4 linked regions of the Homo sapiens genome follow. The protein of the gene in region 1 purifies or fractionates together with the protein of each later gene. This does not show direct contact. Each region holds a gene or a part of one and is shown in the gene's direction. Other genes may lie near its edges.

Region 1 (5,754 bases):
CCCCCAGGCTGGATGGAGTTCAGGGGCACGATCTTGGCTCACTGCAACCTCCACCTCCCGGGTTTAAGTGATTCTCCTGCCTCAGCCTCCCGAGTGGCTGGGATTACATGCATCCACCACTATGCCCGGCTAATTTTATATTTTTAGTAGAGATGGGTTTTCACCATGTTGGCCAGGCTGTTCTCAAACTCCTGACCTCAGGTGATCCACTCACCTCAGACTCCCAAAGTGCTGGGATTACCGGCATGAGCCACCGCGCCTGGCCCAACAAATATTTGAAATATGGGGTGACCAATGTGCCTGGGCACATAGTGCAAGACATGTGACAACACAGAGGTGTGACCCCTCTACCTGGTGGCACAGGAAGGCTTCCAAGAGGAAGGAAAGATGGGACTGTGTGGGCCATCACGTGCAGCGGGGCAACCTGGAAGGAGCAAGCAGAGGGCATGGGGGCATGGCACGGCAGAGTGTGCTCTCAGCACCATACCTGGTCAGGCAGAATTGAAGCATGGAGAGGCGGCGCCTCAGGAGGTGAACCCGGTGAGCCCCCAGGAGCTGGATCATGATGTGTCCTGGGTCCTGAAGAGAGCAGTGTGGGCTTCGCCCAGCAGGCAGGGGGAGTGGTGGGGTTGTTGGCAGGCACATTTGATTGGCACTGGAAAGGCTCTTTCCAGATAGTATGCAGTTTGCTAGATTGCAGCAAGGGGCAAATGAAGAGACTTATAAGCATTCCGAGAAACGATGTGGCCTCAACAAAGGACAGTGACACTGGGAGTGGAGGGAGGAAGCAGTTCAGGTGATGAGATGGCTCAGTGACCAGTTGAAATGGGGCAGGGAAATAGAAAGACAGGAAAATGGCAAGAAGCAAGTCATCTAGAGCAAGACCCCAAATAAGCCAAAGACGACTAACTCTGGGCCAAGATGATCAAGAGGGAGTGCCTTCCTTAGGCCTGGGGAAGAGGGAGGCAACAGCTGTTGTCAAAACAGATTCTAATCAGTGTTGAAACAGATGTGTTTGCAGAAGGCAGGCAGGTGAGGGAGTTCCTGGGAGCTGCACCCTGAATGAAGCTGATGTAGACAGCTGAAAAGGAAGAGGGCGGAAGCTTGAGGACCAAGGTCAACATTAGGAGTGGTTAGTGGAGAGCAAGGCATGAGGAGGTGGCCTTAACACTGAAAGATATCAGTTAACTGAGGCCCAGCTGAGACCAAGGCCAGCTCCATGAAGGCTGCGTCCTCCAACAGGGCTCGGCAGACCCGCAGAGAAAAGGAGGGGGGTGAAGAATGGACTCCGGCTTGAAGATTCGGCCATTTGAGTAGGGGATGGCCATGGTCCCCTCCATTCAAGGGAACTGAGGATGCAGATGACGAGGTGACCACAGTGCTGCCCAGGAAAGGAACTGAAGCCAGGAAGGGTAGAGAGAAACGAGAGGTCCAGGGCTCAGGTCTCCATAGAGCAAAGATGGCAAGTAGGACCAACAGGCATTGGGGAGCTAGAGGACTAGGGCTGTAGTCTGAAGTCGGCATGTTTGCAGACTTCCAAGGCTGGAGCGGCCTTATCGATGGCAGGTGACTATGGGAGCAGGTGGCTGAAGTTGGGGGTGGGCTTGTGTTTTTCCGTGTCCATGAAGGACAAGGACCAGCGGAGGGCAGAGGGTCTGTATGACTGTCTTCCGGCTTCCAGGCTGGGGCACACTTCTCACCAGGCATCTGAGCCTAGGCTGAGCTGTTTAGAGTGCCCCCAGGGGATGGGAGAGGCTCTGAGGAAGCCTGGTGCCTGGGGTAGAGGACAGTCATGCTCCTGGAGGCAGCAGAAGGAAGACACTCGTCTCTGGGGAAGACCGCAGGCTCCCATGGGGGTCTAGAAGCTCCTGGAGACCACTGGGGAATTCAGGTGCAGCCAATATCCAGTCTGTTCAAGCAGCACAGGTAGGCTCACAACAGGGCCTGGTTGTGCTTCCCACCTAATGCTCCCCGGACTGTCAGAGGACAGGGTGGTGCCAGCCTGAGTCAGTGTCCTGAGGGATGGGGAAAGTCCCTTCGTGGTGCAAGGCAAGGCTTGCCTCACACCCTCACAAAGCTGAGCGGTTTCCAGAAGGGCTAGATGGGGGCCGGGAAAGAGTCTGACCCCCAAGGGCCTCTCCTTAGAACTGTGACTGCCAAACCCTTAACCTCCAGGTGTGACAAAGAGCTCAGGTAACCAGTGCATGGAGCACCGTCATTTGAACCACATCACCTTCCCAGGAAGCTCCAAGCAGTTAAAATTTCCTTATAAATTGTAACTCTGCACGTGGATTCTTATGGCATATCCTTTGCTATTTACACCACTCAGGAGCTGGTTTTGCCATAATCTCTTTTTTTTTTTTTTTTTTTCCAGTTTAGTTTGAACTCCTGACGCCTTGGTATGGGAGAGCGGAGCATGTCTTTTCATTCAGAGGTCACTTGATATTTTGCAGCAGCAGGCCGGGGGTGGAAGGGTGCGGGCGTCCTGCGTGGCGCCCGAGTGACAGGCCCTGGCTTCCCACAGGTGCGCGCAGGCGCTGCTGGAGCACGGGGCCTCGGTGCAGCGCGTGGGCGGCACGGGCCGGGACACGCCGCTGCACGTGGCGGCGCAGCGCGGCCTGGACGAGCACGCGCGCCTGTACCTGGGCCGCGGGGCGCACGTGGACGCGAGGAACGGCCGCGGAGAGACGGCTCTGAGCGCGGCCTGCGGTGCGGCGCGGAGGCCCGACGAGCACGGGCGCTGCCTGCGCCTGTGCGCGCTGCTGCTGCGGCGCGGGGCGGAGGCGGACGCGCGCGACGAGGACGAGCGCAGCCCGCTGCACAAAGCCTGCGGCCACGCGAGCCACAGCCTGGCGCGCCTCCTACTGCGGCACGGCGCCGACGCGGGCGCGCTCGACTATGGCGGGGCCTCGCCGCTGGGCCGCGTGCTCCAGACCGCATCCTGCGCTCTCCAGGCCTCACCGCAGCGCACGGTGCAGGCGCTGCTCAACCACGGCTCTCCCACCGTGTGGCCCGACGCCTTCCCCAAGGTAAGGCAGGATCCAGCCCGGCTGGCACGTGCCCTGGAGTTTTGCCACTTAGTGACCGGCCTGGGAGCTGGGTTGCATGCGGCGCTCTCAAAGTGTAATGGCCCAGGCACCCCTGGGGACTTGTGAAAATGCAGAATCTGCTCTGCCGGTCTGGGGTGGGAGAGCCTGCATTGCCAACAAGCTCCCGGGTGTGGCCTAGACTGCTGTTCCTGGGACCCCATTTTGAGGAACAGGGGCCTAGAAGCCTTCTGGTTAGAGCCACGAGACAATTAAGGGGTTGCATGTGAAGAATGCATCCTTTCAAAGTAGTCACCTGGGGACGGACGCCAGGCACTTATTTCGATGATGCAGTCAGAGCTCAAAATATTTTGGCAGCTCATCATCAGTGTCATTTTCAGAACGATGAAAATCAGTCTTTTGCCACATCTGGCATTTGATCTGAAACAAAATTACCCAATCTGATCATCCACCTTGTTAATGAGAGTGCTTCGTACATTTGCAGACTTCTCTCATTCGGTCCTCACCACATTGCAGTGAAACACGAGAGGCAGGTGATATTCTCCCTCTACCTGGGGTTCGGTCAGGTGAAGTGCCCTGCCCAGGTCATTGCAGTGTTGGGACCTCACCCCCATTCTGCTGGCTCACCCTTGCAGACTTGACTCTGAACAACTCATCCTTGTTCCACCCGTCAGATCTACCCTGAAATAATAATGATAAAGAATAAAGATTTCTCACCTCAGAAAATAACCCAAAAGACTGAAAATGTTTCCAAAATATTGGCTGGAGTAACAGGTTGTCCTCCCGAAAAGACTTCATTGAAGGGAAGTCATTCCATTAGATGTAAAATCCGGGTGTGTTTAATTTAAAAATTATCTCCATCAACCAAGACTCATCACTCATAGACATAAGACATATTTTGGCCTGATTAGTTTTGAACAAATAGCTGAAAAGCTAATATTCAAAAGTACAGTGTTCTCAGTGGTCTGAACCATCGAGAAGTGAGATTCACTCATTTCTCTCAAATGCTAACTTTCCATTATAGATGCGTTCAGAGTAGACTGTGCCTCTGAAAGGTTAGAAAATCCCCCGAGACAACTCCCCTAGTGTTTGCTCACTTGACAAACAGGATGGCACTTTCCCGATGCTGTCTCACCCCCTCTTTGGGTAATTGTCTTGTGGTGCTCCACTAAGGCAATGATTTCAATATAGTGGACTCCTGAAAGGGAAGAAATGCTAGCATTTTTATGTTCTGTGACAGCTACCTTTTATATTTATAATTTACATTTTAATGTTTCCCATCATTAGCAGGCTTAGTTCATCAACTTATAACATGGAAACAAGACTCACTGCCCTTCCCATGCACACTGTGTCTGCATTAAACCAACACACACTTCAGCCCTTGTCATATGCAACTGCATAAAGAATGAAAAGAGGCCAGGCATGGTGACTCACACCTGTAATCCCAGCACTTTGGGAGGCTGAGGCAGGAGGATCACTTGAGTCCAGGAGTTTAAGACCAGCCTGGGCAACATAGCAAGATCCTATCTCTACAAAAATTTTTTTAAAAAAATTAGCAGGGCCTGGTGGCATGCACCTGTAGTCCCAGCTACTCAGGAGGCTGAGGCAGGAGGATTACCTAAACCCAGGATGTGGAGGCTGCAGTGAGCTGTGATAGCAACACTACACTCCAGCCTGGGTGATAGAGCAAGACCCTGTCTCCAAAAAAAGGAATGAAAAGAGAAAACAAAGTTACAGGATGGGCCAAAAGGGGAAAATATCTGGGCCAATTATTTTTTTCTGACTTACTTATTCAGGGAAGAATGGGGCAATTTATTTTAAAGAAAAAAAAAGGAGTCAATATATTTCAGTAGCGACTAGAAATAATCCTTTGTTAGCCTTGAAATTGTTTCAATTTGAGTGATCTCTGACCAGGCTTTCAAATCCTAGGGGCAGCCCCACAGGCATCATTTCTAGGAACAGGACCTCTGACCCCTGGACTCTGTTTCCAAGGCTGTAGAAATTACACTGCCTTGACTAGAGATGCAGGACAAAGCACAGCACCTCCTCTCTAGGTGCTCAGGGGCCCTGTTCTGGGATGGGATCCCCAGTACTATGTCAGCCACACAGAAATGGGGTCAGTCAGTGGTGCAACTCATCCTCCATTCAGGTTGGGGGTAGGTTTAGATTTGTTGTACCTGGGGGCCAAAAAGCCATGGGAAGTGCTTGACAAGGAATCTTGTCAGTTCCCACCCATCCTGGAAGGAATTGGAGTTTTCTTGAGAAATCTTAATACCTTGAGGCTTTTGCAAAAAGCGTTGCCCACCGCTGCCTCCCTGAACATGGCGCCTGCAAGCACAGACCTTCCATCAGTGTTTGTTGAATGAATGAAAGGGATTCCAGCCACTGCAGGCTCATGGCCTGCATTAAATCTTTGGAAATAAGGATTCCACCTTTTTGCACTGGGATTCCCCCACACCTCCAGTGGGTACCCCTACACCTGGCCAGGAGAGGATGGTGGATGAGGATGCATTCACCATGCTGAGAATCCCACAAGCAAAGGCAGCAGTGCCTGTAATGTTCTAGCTTGGTCCCCACAACCGAAGCAAAACTCTGTGGAAAGCTAGAGGCAGCCTCTTCCTCCACCCAGTCTCCCTGCAATCGCTCCTCCAGGGACGGCATCTAATCATGTGCGACATCAAAGCAACAGACGCTGCAGCCAGCCACA
Region 2 (5,754 bases), on another chromosome or scaffold:
GGGTGACAGCTGTTGATCAAATACCAGGCTTTGGGGATCAGGTAACTTTTATTTTTACTTATTTATTTATTTTGAGATGGAGTCTCACTCTGTCGCCAGGCTGGAGTGCAGTGGTGCAATCTTGGCTCACTGCAACCTCTTCCTCCCGGGTTCAAGCAATTCTCCTGCCTCAGCCTCTCCAGTGGCTGGGGCTATAGGTGCGCGCCAACACGCCGAGCTAATTTTTGTATTTTTAGTAGAGATGAGCTTTCACCATGTTGGCCAGGATGGTCTCGATCTCTTGACATTGTGATCCGCCTGCCTCAGCCTCCCAAAGTGCTGGGATTACAGGTGTGAGCCACCGTGCCCGGCCTATTTTTATTTATTTTTATTTTGTTTGAGACTGAACTCGTTCTGTCGCCCAGGCTGGAGTGCAGTGGCATGATCTTGGCTCACTGCAGCCTCCGCCTCTTGGGTTCAAGCAGTTCTCCTGTCTCAGCCTCCCAAGTAGCTGTGACTTCAGGCACACACCACCACACCCAGCTAATTTTTGTATTTTTAGTAGAGACAGGGTTTTACCATGTTGGTCAGGCTGGTCTCGAGCTGCTAACCTTAGGTCATCCGCCTGCCTCGACCTCCCAGTGTGCTGGGATTACAGGTGTGAGCCACCGTGCCAAGCCGTAATCTGCATTTTTAGCTTTTTATTTTCAACTGACTTTAGACTTAAAGTTGAAAGAATAGTACAGATTTCCAGCATATGCTCTTCACTCGGAGTCCCCAAATTTAACATTTATATACATGGGGTTTTTTTTTTTCCACCATTTGAGGGTGAGTTGCAGACGTAATGTCCCTTCATTCCTAAATACCTTCGTGTATATTTGTAAAGACAAAAGACTCTTATATAACCAGAGTATCATTATCAGACTCAGGAAGCTAACATTGCTGTAACACTGTAATCTACAGACCTTACTCAGGTTTCACCAGTGGTCCCAGCAGTGTCCTTTAGAGCAAAAGAATAAACTTGTTTTCTTGTTCAAGACCTAACCCAGGGTCACACATTGCATTTAGTTGTCATTTCTTTTTAGTCTCATTTAATCTGGAGTGGCTGCTTTATTCTTTGTTTCTTATGACCTTGATACTTTTGAACAGTGCGATCAAGTGATTTTGTAGACTCTCCCTTAATTGGGGCTTGTTTGTGTCCTCAGGATTAGATTCAGGTTATGCATTTTTGGCAGAAAATCACAGGAAACACATGATGTGTCCCATTACTGGTGATGTGCATTCTGATAAGTTGGTTAAGGTTTCTCTGGCAGGTTTCTCCACTGTAAAGTTACTCTTTTTTTTTTCCTCTTTGTAATTAATACTACCTCATGTTAAGACTATGTTTTAACTGTAAATATTCTGCTTCTCATCAAAATGAACATCTACTGATGATTCTTGCCTGAATCAATTATTGACTGTGATTGTTGTCAGTGTTCATTTTTCTAACTCTATCATTCCTTCTACATTTATTAGTTGACCTTCTAATGCAAGAAAGCTTTCTCTTCTTCCCTATTCATTTCTTCATTTATATCAGTATGGATTCATAGGCCTATTTCATTCAGTGGGTTATAATTCATTGTCGTCACAGGAATACCTTAAATATTGCAGGTTCAGTTCTGCACCATTGCAGTAGGTGAATATTATAATAAAGTGAGTCTCATGAATTTTTTGATGTCCCAGCACATGTAAAAGTTATGTTTATACTGTAGTCTGTTAAATGCTCAATATCATTGTGTCTAAAAACCAATGTACGTACCTTAATTTAAAAATACTTTACTGCTAAAAAATACTAGCAGTTGGCCAGGCGCAATGGCTCAGGCCTGTAATCCCAGCACTTTGGGAGGCTGAGGCGGGCAGATCACGAGGTCAGGAGATCGAGACCGTCCTGACTAACACTGTGAAATCGCGTCTCTACTAAAAAAATGCAAAAAATTAGCCGGGCGTAGTGGCGGGCGCCTGTAGTCCCAGCTACCGGGTGGCTGAGGCAGGAGAATGGCATGGAGGCAGGAGAATGGAGGTGGAGCTTACAGTGAGCTGAAATCGCGCCACTGCACTCCAGCCTGGGTGACAGAGCGAGACTCTGTCTCAAAAAAAAAAAAAAAAAATTAGCAGTCATCTGAGCCTCCATCTTGTTGGTGGAGGGTCTTGCCTCGATGTTGATGGCTGCTGACTGATCAGGGTGGTGGTTGTTGAAAGTTGGGATGGGCTGTGGAAATTTCTTTTCTTTCTTTTTTTTAAGAGATGGGGTCTGTTTCCCAGGTTGGTCTTTTTTTTTTTTTTTTTTTTTTTTTTGAGACTGAGTCTCCTCGCTCTGTCGCCCAGGCTGGAGTGCAGTGGCGCGATCTCAGCTCACTGCAAGCTCCGCCTCCCGGGTTCACGCCATTCTCCTGCCTCAGCCTCCCGAATAGCTGGGACTACAGGCACCCGCTACCACGCCCGGGTAATTTTTTGTATTTTTAGTAGAGACGGCATTTCACCGAGTTAGCCAGGATGGTCTCCATCTCCTGACCTCATGATCCGCCCGCCTCGGCTTCCCAAAGTGCTGGGATTACAGGCGTAAACCACTGTGCCCGGACCCAGGTTGGTCTTGAATTCCTGGCCTCAGGCAATTTTTCTTTTCTTTTTTTTTTTTTTGTTTTGAGACGAGTCTCTCTCTGTCGTCCAGGCTGGAGTGCAGTGGTTCACCCAGTTCACTGCAAGCTCCACCCCCCAGGTTCACACCATTCTCCTGCCGCAGCCTCCCAAGTAGCTGGGACTACAGGTGCCTGCCACCACACCTGGCTAATTTTTTTTTTTTTGTATTTTTAGTAGAGATGGGGTTTCACCATGTTAGCCAGGATGGTCTCGATCTCCTGACCTCATGATCCGCCCGCCTTGGCCTCCCAAAGTGCTGGGATTACAGGAGTGAGCCACTGCACCCTGCCAGCCTCAGGCAATTTTTATACCTCAGCCTCCTGAGTAGCTGGGATTACAGGCAAGAGTGATTGTGCTCAGCTGTGGCAATTTCTTAAAACAACGAAGTTTGCCTCGTTGATTGACTCTTCCTTTCACAAAAGATCTTTCTGTAGCATGTAATGCTGTTTTATAGCTTTTTTTTTTTTGAGATGGAGTTTTCGCTCTTGTTGCCCAGGCTGGAGTGCAGTGGTGCAGTCTTGGCTCACTGCAACTTCCACCTCCTGGATTTAAGTGATTCTCCTGCCTCGGCCTCCCTAAGTAGCTGGGATTATAGGTATGCATCACCACACCTGGCTAATTTTTTTTGTATTTAGTAGAGACAGGGTTTCACCATGTTGGTCAGGCTGGTCTGGAACTCCTGACCTCAGATGATCCACCCGCCTTAGCCTCCCAAAGTGCTGGGATTACAGGCGTGAGCCACTGCGCCCGGCTGACAGCATTTTTTAAAATGTCAGCCAGGTGATGTACTGATGTTCTAACAAGGTTCAAGGATGGCACATCTCACATGTAAGCGTGAACACCCAATGATCACACTTATGAACTACAAAATGATCTGTTTGATAGCATTTTACCTAGAAGAAAGAACTACTTTCTTTTTTTTTTTTTTTGAGACAGTCTCACTCTGTTGCCCAGGCTGGAGTGCAGTGGCACCATCTCGGCTCCCTGCAACTTCTGCCTCCTGGGTCCAAGCAATTCTGCCTCAGCTTCCCGAGTAGCTGGGATTACAGATGTGTGCCACCACACCCGCCTAATTTTTGTATTATTAGTAGAGACAGGGTTTTACCATGTCAGCCACGCTGGTCTCGAACTCCTGACCTCAGGTGATCTGCCCGCCTCGGCCTCCAAAAGTGCTGGGATTACAGGCGTGAGCCACTGCGCCCAGCCGAAAGAACTACTTTCAAAATTGTAGTCACTGTTCTCAAACCCTGCCACTGTGTTATCAAATAATTTTTGTAATACTTCTAAATCCTTGTTTTCATTTCAGCAGAGTTCACAGCATCTTCAGCAGTAGATTCATCTCAAAAAAAAAAACAAAAAACCTTCTTTGCTTATCTATCAAAGCAACTCCTTATCCATTACAGTTTTATCATAAGATTGAAGCAGCCCAGTCACAGCTTCAGGTTCCAGTTCTAATTCTAGTTCTTTTGCTCTTTCCACCACATCTGCAGTTACTTCTACCATGGAGGCCCTGAACTCCTCAGAGTCATCCATGAGGGTTAGAATCAACTTCTTCCAAACTCCTGTTAATGTTGATATTTTGGCCTCCTCCCATGAATCACGCGTGTTCTTCATGGCATCTAGAATGGTGCATCCTTTCCAGAGATTTTCAGTTTACTTTGGGTCCTTCAGAGGAATCACTATCTATGGCATCTATAGTCTTATAAAATGTATTTCTTTTTTTTTTTTGATACAGAGTCTTGCTCTGTCACCCAGGCTGGAGTGCAGTGGCGCAATCTCGGCTCAGTGCAACCTCTGCTTTCCAGGTTCAGGTGATTCTCGTGCCTCATTCTCTCGAGTTTCTGGGATTGCAGGTGTGCACCACCACGCCCAGCTAATTTTTGTATTTTTAATAGAGACAGGGTTTCACCATGTTGGCCAGGCTGATCTCAAACTCCTGACCTCAGGTGATCTGCGTGCTTCAGCCTCCCAAAGTGCTGGGATTATAGGTGTGAGCCACCACGCCCAGCCAAATGTATTTCTTTTTATTTTATTTTAGAGGCGGGGTCTCTGTCTGCTGTCCAGGCTGGAGTACAGTGACAGGATCTCCCTCTCTCACCCAGACCTGCAGTGCAGTGGTGCGATCACTGCTCACTGCAGCCTCTACCACCTGGGCTCAGGTGATCCTCCCACCTCAGCCTCCTGAGTAGCTTGGAAGCTGGGACCACAGGTACGTGCCACCACACCTGACTAATTTTTGTATTTTTTGTGGAGACGGAGTTTTGCCATGTTGCCCAGGCTGGTCATGAACTCCTGGGCTCAAGCAGTCAACCCATCTTGGCCTCCCGAAGTGCTAGGATTAGAGGTATGAGCCACTGTGCCCAAGCACCCAGCTAATTTTTAGAAATTTTTAGTAGAGACAGGGTCTTGTCTTGTTGTCCAGGCTGGTATCAAATTCATTGGCTCAAGTAATCCTCCCGCCTCAGCCTGTATTCTTGACAGTTTGGGAGGGTGAGGTGGGAGGATCACCTTATTGTTATTACTCTTAATAATAAGACTTGGAAGTTGAAATTACTCCTTGTTCAATGGGCTGCAGAATGGATGTTGTATTAGCGGGCATGAAAACATCACTAATCTCCTTGTGTATCTCCATCAGAGCTGTCGAAAGACTGTTGTTTGATAAATATATTTTTTTGAGATGGAGTCTTGCTCTGTCGCCCAGGCTGGAGTGCAATGGCACGATCTCGGCTTAGTGCAATCTTCACCTCCTGGGTTCAAGCGATTCTCCTGCCTCAGCTTCCCGAGTAGCTGGGATTACAGGCGTACACCACCACGCCTGGCTAATTTAGTATTTTTAGTAGAGATGAGGTTTCACCATGTTGGTCGGGCTGGTCACGAACTCCTGACCTCAAATGATCTAACTGCCTCAGCCTCCCAAAGTGCTGGGATTACAGGTGTGAACTACTGCGCCCGGCCTGTTGTTTGATATTGTTTGAACTTTTATCAATTATCTTAGTTAGATCTTCGGAGTAACTTATTGCAGCTTCTACATGAGCACTTACTGCTTCACCTTGCACTCTTAGGTCACGGAAACGGCTTCTTTCCTTAAACTTCATGAAA
Region 3 (5,754 bases), on another chromosome or scaffold:
CAGACAAAAATAATTACATTCACATTAAAAATGTCTCTTACCTTATTCTGGGCTAGTGAATGTTCCCTTTCAATGTCTTTTAGATAGCTGCCAGAGACACTATCTGTATCTCTTCCTCCTACCTTGTACCTCATTATCAGTGTTTGAGAAAGGAGTTGATAACTGAATTCTCAGTTCTAGCCAAATGTGAATGGGGATCTCATAGTCAGTTCAGGCCCAAGTTTTGGGTGCAGACTGTAAATGGCTTTGGGACAATAATATTCTATAAACCATGTAACAGTAGTTTTCTAGGCATATTTCCTATAGGAATCTTTATCCAGGGCAAAGGCATTTGGGCTGCACCAAAGTCCCAGATGCCTTGTTATAAGGTAGCTCTCAAACAGTAGCTCATCAGATCCCATCTGCCAGCTCTAATCAGTGGGGAATATCAGATTCTTTTTTTAAGCTTTGAGGGGATCTGGGATATGGCTTGTTTCTTTCATTTTTGGGGGGTTTCACTTTGTTAGATATACATAAGATTTTTAAAAATGTTTTCAGTCAAATTGATTTCCTTCTTCCTTACAGTGTAAGGCAAACATTGGTGGGCACCGATCTTCCTGTTCATTCTGCAAGAACCCAAGAGAAGGTGAGTGGCGAAAGTGGTAGCAGTTTTTATCTCGTGCATTGAGCAAAACAAATTTCATGTTTTCCTTGGCTTTGAAGAATTATCATCCCTAAATCCAAGTTGATCTACAAACCTTTTTTTTTTTTTTTGAGATGGAGTCTCGCTGTGTTGCCCAGGCTGGAGTGCAGTGGCACCATCTTGGCTCACTGCAACCTCCAGCTCCCAGGTTCAAGCGATTCCCCTGCCCTAGCCTCCTGATTAGCTGGGATTCCAGGCATGTGCCACCACGCCCTGTAGCCCGGCTAATTTTTTTGTATTTTTAGTAGAGACGGGGTTTCACCATGTTGGTCAGGCTGGCCTTGAACTCCTGACCTTGTGACCCGACCCACCTTGGCCTCCCATAGTGCTGGGATTACAGGTGTGAATCACTGCACAAGGCCTGCAAACCTTTATTTATTTATTTATTTTTGAGACAGAGTCTCGTACTCACCCAGGCTGGAGTGCAGTGGCGCAATCTCGGATCACTGCAAGCTCCGCCTCCCAGGTTCACGCTGTTCTCCTGCCTCAGCCTCTCTAGTAGCTGGGACTATAGGCGCCCACCACCATGCCCAGCTAATTATTTGTATTTTAGTAGAGACGGAGTTTCACCGTGTTAGCCAGGATGGTCTCGATCTCCTGACCTCGTGATCTGTCTGCCTCAGCCTCCCAAAGTGCTGCGATTACAGGCGTGAACCACCACGACCGGCCCAAACCTTTCAAAAGTGCAATTTGAGCTAGGCATGGTGGCTAACGCTTGTAATCCCAGCACTTTGGGAGGCCAAGGCAGGTGGATCACCTGTGGTCAGGAGTTCAAGACCAGCCTGACCAACATGCCGAAACCCTGTCTCTACTAAAATTACAAAAATTAGCCACAGGTGTGGTGGCACATGCTTGGAATCCCAGCTCCTTGGGAGGCTGAGACACTAGAATCGCTTGAACCCAGGAGTCAGAGGTTGCAGTGAGCTGAGATCTCGCCACTGCACTCCAGCCTAGGCAACAGAGTGAGAAAAAAAAAATTGCAGTTTGGTGCCCAACTTAACGTAACCTGTTAGTAAATGATTTCAGATCTTATTTTCACCAGAGGAAAGAGATAGGGTTGTGGGCTCCTAGGCTAAAGTGGCTAAGTGGGCAGCTGAGCAGAGGTCAGTATATTGTTATTTGGAATACATTTAAGGATTAAGGATGTTAGGTTGAAAAAGAGTCTTTATGACATCAGTCTGTGTGGCAAACCTTTCTCCCACTCCTACTTCTTTGAAGTTATTGGGAATCATTTGCTCTATTGTTTTCTCTTTTACATTCTGTAAGCATTTCAGGATTTTCAAGAGAAAAACATTTGTTAAAATAACAGTAAAAACATAAATAGGAGAAAATAATCAGGATGTGGGGAACATTTTATTATTTTAGAGGAATAAAACTACCAGCTTCTCAAGCACTTATCTTTAATGTAAATTTCTTTAGAGAAATTTCAGGTAGGCAACTTCGAAGAGTCAGACACATGCATCCATAACAACAGTCCTGTAGTCATCCCTTAAGGAAAGCCACAGCATGACCATAAAATATAGTTCAGTGCAGGGATTCAGGTAGCCTTCTGTTTGTTGCAAGGTTAGAGTTTAATGTGCCTACAAGGAGTTTCTTAGGTGGGCTTTTGTCCTCTTGTGGAGATTTTACTCTGGTGAAGACTGAAAGGCAGGTGTTCTGAAAATCTTTAGGGGAAGGCTGTGTATGTTCTAGAAACCAAACCAAAATGTGGGAAGGAGGATGAACAACTGAGATTTTTGCTTGTTAGGTCACTTCAGGTTAGGCAAAGTTGTGTTTTTTTCCCCCCACAAGAAACACTTTTTTTCAAAGCTATTCCAGCAAATGAATAGATAGTTTTTTGTTTTTTTTCTTTTTTTTTTTGAGACGGAGTCTTGCTCTGTCACCCAGGCTGAAGTGCAGTGGCGCAATCTCGGCTCACTGCAAGCTCTGCCTCCCAGGTTCACGCCATTCTCCTGCCTCAGCCTCCCAAGTAGCTGGGATTACAGGCACCCGCCACCGTGCCCAGCTAATTTTTTGTATTTTCAGTAGAGACAGGGTTTCACTGTGTTAGCCAGGATGGTCTCGATCTCCTGACCTCGTGATCTGCCCGCCTCAGTCTCCCAATGTGCTGGGATTACAGGCGTGAGCCACCGCTCCCGGCCATGAATAGATAGTGTATGAAAACCACTGGGCACCATACCACTAAGATGAGACAGCTTTAATCTGGAAACCTGTCACTGCTATTATGTAATCTCTATATTGCTCTCATATAATACCTCTTTTTGAGCCACATGGATTCCAGTGAACCCTCCAAGAATGAATTAGTTACAAGAATGTGCCCCTAATTATAAAACAAACTATAAAGACAAATTATCCTGCTGTAGTAGGACATTTGAAATAAATCATTTATATTTTGAAGGACGTCTGCCCATTATGTTTATTTGCATATAAAGGAGCTACGTGCAGATAGGGTCTGTTCCTAGCTTCACTGGAGGAGGGCCTGTGGTCTTACAGGATATGAGTAGCTGTTTGAGCACTGTAACACTGGAAGAAGCAAGGCTTCTAGATGTGTGTTTGGGATATGTGTTTCTACTAAACCTTAAGTAAGGGCCATATCTTCGGTAATTTTGTCCCCAGATGTGTTGTTATCATTGATTATGATAGTCAGGTTCAAGGTGTCATGAAGGATTTGTTATATTTAAATGTTTAGTAGGTGATATAGAGATTTCATAAGATTACATTTTTTAAATGCTTGGATAGTTTCTTCTGTGAACTATTTCATGTCCTGTCTCAGCTTCACTTAAAATATTTTGTCAGGAACTGTCAGAGGACTTTTTATTAGATATTTCTGAGATAATATTAAAAGCATTCCAGGCCGGGCGTGTTTGCTCACACCTGTAATCCCAGCACTCTGGGAGGCCGAGGCAAGTGGATCACCTGAGGTCAGGAGTTCGAGACCAGCCTGGCCAACATGGTGAAACCTCGTTTCTACTAAAAATACAAAAAATTACCTGGGCGTGGTGGTGGGCACCTGTGATCCCAGCTACTCTGAAGGCTGAGGCAGGAGAATCGCTTGAACCCGGGAGGCAGAGGTTGCAGTGAGCCAAGATCATGCCATTGCACTTCAGCTGGGCAACAAGAGCAAAACTCCGTCTCAAAAAAAAAAAAAAAAAAAAAAGGCATTCCAGTATGAGTATTTGCTGGCAGGTAAGGAGAAATTACAGTAGCAGTGTTTTTTCTTTTTTTTTTTTTTTGATAAAGCTTTCTAGAGATTCTCTTTGTTTCTGTTCCACTAGTGACAGAGGCCAAGCAAGAATTAATAACCTACCCTCAGCCTCAGAAAACATCCATACCAGCACCATTGGAAAAACAGCCCAACCAGCCCCTAAGACCAGCTGATAAGGAACCTGAACCCAGGAAGAGGGAAGAAGGCCAAGAGTCACGCTTAGGACATCAAAAGAGAGAAGCAGAAAGGTATCTGCCTCCTTCTCGAAGGGAAGGGCCAACTTTCCGAAGAGACCGAGAGAGGGAGTCATGGTCTGGAGAGACACGCCAGGATGGAGAGAGCAAAAGTAAGTAGTTTGTCAGGGCACATACCAGACTGTGATCATCACAATGGAGCATAGATGGCCAATGTTATGTCCGGGAGCTATCTGCTTTCCAGTACCCTGAGAGATCTGTGCATGACCTGATGACAGAGGCCATTGCTGTCTGTGGACCTTCCTGTACTGCTTAAAGGAATCTATGCCCTTCAAATAGTAAATTGCTATATGAATGCAGTAAGGCATGATTTTAGATTTCTAAGTATTGGTGAAGAAAAGTATGCAGTATTTATTTGTTTAGCATTTTTTTACAGAACCAGCCTTGCTAGTAGCATCTATAGTAAAAAATGACAGTCAGATTCTTGGGACTTCAAAAATTTATCTTTCTCTCCCTTGTGTTGCCCTTCTCCCATTTATGGTTGATTCAGCTATCATGCTAAAGCGTATCTATCGTTCCACACCACCTGAGGTGATAGTGGAAGTGCTGGAGCCCTATGTCCGCCTTACTACTGCCAACGTCCGTATCATCAAGAACAGAACAGGCCCTATGGGGCATACCTATGGCTTTATTGACCTCGACTCCCATGCGGTGAGTTTCCTCCACCTTGGATTGGCCTAGAGACAGATGGCTAAAGAACCTTCAAGAAGGTTTGACTGGGGGCCGGGCCTGGTGGCTTACGCCTGTAATCCCAGCACTTTGGGAGGCCGAGGTGGGTGGATCACGAGGTCAGGAAATCAAGACCATCCTGGCTAACACGGTGAAACCCTGTCTCTACTAAAAAATACAGAAAAATTAGCTGGGCGTGGTGGCAGGCGCCTGTAGTCGCAGCTACTCGGGAGGCTGAGGCAGGAGAATGGCGTGAACTCCGGAGGCGGAGCTTGCAGTGAGCCGAGATCGCGCCACTGCACTTCAGCCTGGGTGACAGAGCGAGACTCTGTCTCAAAAAAAAAAAAAAAAAATTTGAGGGACTTCTTGATCATTTGAATTCTTGTGTGCTACCTGATATCATAATCCCTCTTGCTCTCTCCTTTGGGTTTATTGTTCATTCAGGTCAGGTGACAGCCCTCAAAAGTTAGGATCCCGTCTGGTTTTCTAGGTTCATTTTTTTCTTGTGTCATTTACTGTTTCCAACTTACTCGCTTGTGAAGAATCTGAGTACTGAATCCTTCATGATTTTAGTGAACTTTCTGATTTATTTTGTCCAGCCACAGATGGTTTTATATTTGATGATAAAACATTTCCTCTTTTTCCTCAAAGTATTTATAGATTCCTGTGGCTTAAATTTTTAGTTGCGGGGCCTTTTTCTATGGAAGTAAGGTGAAGATAATGAAAGTCATTGGTATTTCTTAGATTTTTCATGCTCAAAAGTCACAAGGGACTTTGTAAACTGAATCTGATTGATGATAATTGCAACCTAAAAGAAGAGGATTTGAATTTCTGAAGTTTATGCCAGAACTGACATCTATTCTGATTCCTGTTCCAATCAGTCCTTCATTAAAAGTTGCCTGTTTCTGCCAGTATGCTCTTACTGTTAAAATTTTGACAGAATA
Region 4 (5,754 bases), on another chromosome or scaffold:
GGGCAGGCCCCAGCTTAGGTGAGCAGCTGATTTTGCCCAATTCCACTGCCCAAAGACTGTGGCCATAGTGCCTGCCACCTGTCACATATGAGACAGGGATGAGAGTGATCCCTGAAGAGGGAAGTGGAGCTCATTGTTTAGGAGAGGAGACGTTTTTCTTCTTACGTGCAGGTAGATGTTCTAAGTACACAAGATAAAATGGCAAAACAGTGGCCACTGAGGGAAAGGCATATCCCACCAGAGATGCATCGTTTGTTTCGTATTTCATTTTTTAAGGAATTAGGAAAGAAAAAATAAATGACTAATCTCAAAATGCTAACCTAATTATTTTATTTTTGCATCTTACTGTATAGCTTTTGCACATTTTTCTGTGATCATAACCACAGAGCCTGTAGCAGACTCTCTTTCTGCACATTCTGTGATCATCTGAAGCTAAGAGCCCTTCGGCTCTGGGAGTGTGTGTCAGCCTCTTGTGGGTCTCACCCAGTGGTGCCTGCCTGCCTCCCTCCCTCCCAGCCTCCATGCCAGCTGAGTTCTGTACCGTCTGCTGCCTTCATGCAGGTGGTTCTCTTCTCCCAGTATACCTTTCTTGCCCTCTCTGTCAAAATCTTATACTTCTTAGGCCATGTCAAATACCATCTCCTCTTCGGCTGTGGTTGTTCAGTTTCCCGGCTGGAATCCCTTTGGAATACCTCTGCCCTTCCTGTGCTGTTGAGTGTCTTATACAGTGTGTGATTAGTTATTTGTATTACAGTTGTAGAAATACCTCTGCCCTTTGTTTGCTTCATAAAATAGAGGCAAAGACACATCTTACCCATAATTATATTCCTCACTGCAACTTATCACAATAGAAGTGCTCAGTAGTGTTTTTTGAAATGAAATAAAATGTATCATTTCCCTGGGAGGTTCTGGAAAGGAAGGACTGTTTCCATCGTTCCATATATTATCTAGCCCAACATGCACATTTCCTGAATACTAATATATCAGCTTTTCCTAAGTTCAGTTTATCTTATCGCTCCTCTCTGCTCAAAGCCATGGAAGACATCTGGGTCCTGCACAGTATTTTGTCTTTTATTTTTATTTGCAGAGCTTACTGGATTTTTTTGTTTGTTTTTTAGGTCTTTGACTTTGAACTGAGCAGCCAGGATATGACCACCTTACTCAGCTACAACAGGAACTGGAGGGTCTGTGCCTTGTTGAGGTGAGTGAGCCCCAGTGTGAGGAGCAGTTCCCAGGAGATATTCAGATGCTGCACAGCAAGAGAGTGATCCCTGCAGGCCTCAGCGCCAATGTGCTCTCGTCACAGCTGTTCTTGCTTTGCACATTACCTTGCTTTCTCAGCCACGTGACTTGCATCAGCTGAACTGCATGGAGCCAAGATGCCAAGAGATCCGCTCTTGATATCTTCTTCCAGCCCTGGGGCATTGTTGGCCTGGCCTGAAGTAACTACATATTTTGGCTTTCCATTCAATTTTTAAATCCTAGCAGTTCATCTGAAACTAGGTGATCCCAGGTGACCCTGGATCAAACTCTGGAAGAATTTGCCTGTGACTTTTTGTCTTAATGACCCTAATGAAAGGGGTTTGGTCGGGAGCCCCTGGGGCTGAGGTTTGAGACAGTCCCGGCTCTGACCTGGTAAGCCACATGGCTCCAAAACAGGCCCTCCCTCTGAGCAGCAGGCACCTCAGTTCCTCCAGCCACACATCCTCTGGTTCTGTTTCCTCTGCATGGTAGTTTGGAAGGAGCTGCCTAGGAAGGTTTTCTGTGGGGTTTTCTCTTTTCCTACCATTACAATAACTAGGTGACGCATGTAACTCACTTTCTGCTTTCAAGAAGGAACTTCTCATTTTGCAGTGGAGACTGAGACTCTGTTTCTCTCTCACTACCCTTATTCTTGTCTGAGCTCTGTGTTTCCACACTCTCTCCTTTAGTACTTCCTCTTCTAAGCAAAATGTGAACATTCCCTAAGATGGGGTGGGCTACCAGCTTTCCCTTTCCAGCGTCTGTCCCATCTCCCTCCCCGGAGTTTGCACTGCTGGTGGCTTCAGCCACCGCCCCAGGCAGATGTTTGCCCAGTCTGCGTCCTGGACAATAACTCTGGCCCTGCTTCAGGCATATGCGTGCCTGGCAAGCCTGCTGCTGCCACACTGTGGCCTCACACTCAAAATAGGCCGCAAACAGAGCATGTCACAGGCAGCCCCAGGCCAGTGCCCTTTCAGACATCTCTGTTAATGCTACTTAGCCCTAGACATTAAAATCATTTTTGGATCTAGTGGACAAGGAGGAGAGGAGTGAATCAGTCACCAAGCTACATTCGTTCTCCTTTCAGAATCTCTCCCATTCATCCGTCTTCCTTTTCCCCTCCCACTTGAGACAGAGTGGATTGAAGCTTTCAGGGCTGAGGAAACACAGTGGTTTTCTCATTGCTCCCTTTACAGTTAGGCTCCTCTGCCCTCCAGTATTGTGCTAGAAACTTCTGTTCGATTATCCTGTTGCGTGGCGGTGAGTGGGAGGAAGAGGCTAGCCCTGACATGCTCAGGTCTCCTAGGGAGTTTTCGCTAACTACACACACACCACCCCTCTGGCAGATAATGCTTTACTGAGCCTGACCTGCTGATGTCAGTGTCACTGTGGGTATACAAAAAAGGCAGACCATGGAGAACTTTTGAATAAGAGTTACAGACTGTAAGCACCCAGCTCAGATTACATAACTCTGGCCTTGCGTGAGCTGCCCAGCTATCTGTCCAGTGTTCCTGCCTTTATGTTCCTAGCACAGCCATTGGCCCTACTAGATGGACAGTGAGTGAGCCTTGACAAACACGTCTGCACCTGTGCTCCCTGCCATGTGCTCCCTGCCCTGTGCTCCCTGCCCTGTTTCCAATATAAAATCGCCGACCGTTGATTGGGCTCACTTCAGCCCCCACTGATACAAGGAGGCTCCCTCTGTCCTCAGAGCACTTGCCGTTGCTTCTCTTATCCTTTGAGATTCAGTCACATACAGACTTTTAACATCCCTTTTTTTTTTTGAAATGGGCTCCTACTCTGTCACCCAGGCTGGAATGTAATGGCATGATCACAGCTCACTGCAGCCTTGACCTCCTGGGCTCAAATGATCCTCCCACCTCAGCCTCCCAAGTAGCTGGGGCCATGGGCATGCACCACCATGCCTGGTTAATTTAAAAAGTTTTTTTATTAAGATGGAAATCTTGCTATGTTGCCCAGGCTAGTCGCAAACCCCTAGCCTCAAGTGATCCTCTCGCTTCAGCCTGGGATTACAGGCGTGAGCCACTGTGTCTGGCCTGCCTTCTCATATTATTACACAAGATGTTTAAGACCACAAAATACTGTCTGGTCCTGCCAGCTAGACTGAGTTACTGGAAGGCAGAAATCGTGTTGCCGTCCTGCACGGCCCAGGCACAGTGCTGGGCACATGGGGAGGGTGGTGTCCCTCACACATGTGCTGCTTGATGACAGTAGTGGTAGAGGGGTCTGGAGGGTGAGTTGCTTCCCCCAGCTGCAGAACCATCATCTGCACACTCAGAACTAGCTTGTTGCCTCTGAGGTTCTATTTTATTTCTTCAGTGAGACACATCATTTCTCTGTTGGGAGTTGGGTATAGTCAAAATCACCTCTTCAAAAAGCAACTGTTTTCTCCTTTCTCCTGACAGCTGTACCTCCCACAAGGATTACCCCTTCCATGAAGAGTTTTGAAGCTGTGGTTGCCTGCTCGTCCCCAAGTGACCTATACCTGTGTTTCTTGCCTCATTTTTTTCCTTGCAAATGTAGTATGGCCTGTGTCACTCAGCAGTGGGACAGCAACCTGTAGAGTGGCCAGCGAGGGCGTGTCTAGCTTGATGTTGGATCTCAAGAGCCCTGTCAGTAGAGTAGAAGTCTCTTCCAGTTTGCTTTGCCCTTCTTTCTACCCTGCTGGGGAAAGTACAACCTGAATACCCTTTTCTGACCAAAGAGAAGCAAAATCTACCAGGTCAAAATAGTGCCACTAACGGTTGAGTTTTGACTGCTTGGAACTGGAATCCTTTCAGCAAGACTTCTCTTTGCCTCAAATAAAAAGTGCTTTTGTGAGCTTGGTTTTGTGAGCTTTGGTTTTTTAAAACAATAGCAACCTTCTATCTCACTTCAACCATCACTCTCCACATACCCATAAGGCAGGCCAGTCAGTGATGCAAAAGGAGTGAGGACTTGACTTTTCTACAAGTCCTCAACTGCAAGTTGGGGGCCCCTCACCCCAGTACTTTACCCATTTAGCTTTAGGGTTGTGGGTCTCATCCTGGCTGCACACCAGGTCACCTTTGGGGGCTTTAAGGCTGGTGATGTCTGGACCTCGCCCTGGAGGCTGATCTGATTGGGCTGTGATCAGGACAGCAGGAGTGTACAGGCTCTCCAGGTGATTCCAGGGTGCAGCCAAGGCTGAGCCACAGCTTTAGGGTAAACCCATGTTCGATTCCACAGATTCCTTGGTTGCTCCTTCTACGTATGAAGGCCGAGGTCGGTGTTTACTAAGCAGCACAACCTGAGAGAAATTGCTTTTCTGAAGCCTGTTGTCTAGACAAGAGGAAAGAAAAGCATAAATAAATGGCTTCCAATTGGATGAAGATGAAATAGGGCTACAAAATAAAGATTTTGAGGCGGAATGCTGTTGCTTCTTTTTGTTACCGTTTCTTTATCCAGAGTTAAGTTAACAAAGGCCAAGAAAGGAATGGAATAGACAAGTGCCGACTTGAAAGTTCATCAAGTTAGGTTGTTTTGTGGCTGCCCTTGTTTATTGGATAATTAGGACCCCCATGATCAAGTCACATTAACTGCTTTGCAGGTGATCTGTGTTTAAGATGCACCTCTAAAGGTATAGTTAATTGGGCAGTGGTGGTTCCTGGCCCTCACCCAGCGCTGGAGGGGCACACCTAGCCCCTCTGCGGCTGGGGTTGAGCCCGGTGGAGAACCCAGAGCCCCACTGCACAGGCTGCCCTTACTACCTGGCAGCCTTGGGCCTGGGTCCCTCATGGCATCTGCTGATCACAGTGGTCCAGTTTCCCCTGCCAGAGTAGGCAGGTCACACCTGTTAAACTGCAGACCTTATGTTGCCCTCTGATGATTAAGAGTAGATTTTAGTTTTGTTACAAAAGTTACGTCAAATCATCTGACCTGATCCCCACTCTGTTTCTCCAGTTGGCTTCAACACTCTTTGGAAAAACTTTAAGGTAGTCACTGGTAACAGTTTTTAAATCGGTTACCTGCCTTTTAGATCTCCGCTTAGTATAGACCATTGTAGCATGACAATTTGAGACTCAGCCCAGGAGCATAAACAAGATAAAAGGCAAGCTGTGCAACCTCCCCTCCCTACTTTCCAGCAGAACCCTCAGATTTTTTCTAAGGACTGCCCTTTAGGAGCCTTGCCGGCAGTGGAAGAGGAGGAAGAGAATTAAAGCATGCCACGAATGACAGGGAGAACAGCTGGTTCTGCATTTTGAAGCTCCAATCGTATTTTCAGTAGTCAGCGGCTTGGGCTCAGGTAAGGCCCGTTGCTTGTATGCTGAAAAGTGTGGCTTAAGGAGCAGAAGCTGAGGCTGTGGAGCTCAGTGGAACCAGCTTCATTCCACTAACAATTCATCCAAGGAGTGGATGGATGAGAGAAGGTCCGTGGATCAAGACAGGTGCTGCTTCATTCACCAATGGAGAGCTCCATTCTTCCTTCCCCTTGTGGAATCAAAACCGCTACACCTTCCTGGGCAGACTCCA

What was found.
Region 2: the proteins of ASB18 (region 1) and PRPSAP1 purify together in Homo sapiens (affinity purification with mass spectrometry, with the first as the bait; one large-scale study listed by BioGRID). This does not show direct contact.
Region 3: the proteins of ASB18 (region 1) and RBM6 purify together in Homo sapiens (affinity purification with mass spectrometry, with the first as the bait; one large-scale study listed by BioGRID). This does not show direct contact.
Region 4: the proteins of ASB18 (region 1) and AKR1B1 purify together in Homo sapiens (affinity purification with mass spectrometry, with the first as the bait; one large-scale study listed by BioGRID). This does not show direct contact.

What each region holds. Positions count from the first base shown.
Region 1 is NC_000002.12:236,211,637-236,217,390, reverse strand, and holds part of ASB18 (ankyrin repeat and SOCS box protein 18), read left to right. Parts: intron 1-487; exon of another isoform or gene 488-753; intron 754-2,524; coding exon 2,525-3,029; intron 3,030-3,165; exon of another isoform or gene 3,166-3,728; intron 3,729-5,754. UniProt on the Homo sapiens protein: May be a substrate-recognition component of a SCF-like ECS (Elongin-Cullin-SOCS-box protein) E3 ubiquitin-protein ligase complex which mediates the ubiquitination and subsequent proteasomal degradation of target proteins.
Region 2 is NC_000017.11:76,321,971-76,327,724, reverse strand, and holds part of PRPSAP1 (phosphoribosyl pyrophosphate synthase-associated protein 1), read left to right. Parts: intron 1-3,425; exon of another isoform or gene 3,426-3,529; intron 3,530-5,754. UniProt on the Homo sapiens protein: Seems to play a negative regulatory role in 5-phosphoribose 1-diphosphate synthesis.
Region 3 is NC_000003.12:50,053,771-50,059,524, forward strand, and holds part of RBM6 (RNA-binding protein 6), read left to right. Parts: intron 1-564; coding exon 565-625; exon of another isoform or gene 626-631; intron 632-3,957; coding exon 3,958-4,233; intron 4,234-4,631; coding exon 4,632-4,792; intron 4,793-5,754. UniProt on the Homo sapiens protein: Specifically binds poly(G) RNA homopolymers in vitro.
Region 4 is NC_000007.14:134,440,685-134,446,438, reverse strand, and holds the end of AKR1B1 (aldo-keto reductase family 1 member B1), read left to right. Parts: intron 1-1,118; coding exon 1,119-1,201; intron 1,202-3,668; coding exon 3,669-3,711; 3' UTR 3,712-4,083; downstream 4,084-5,754. UniProt on the Homo sapiens protein: Catalyzes the NADPH-dependent reduction of a wide variety of carbonyl-containing compounds to their corresponding alcohols.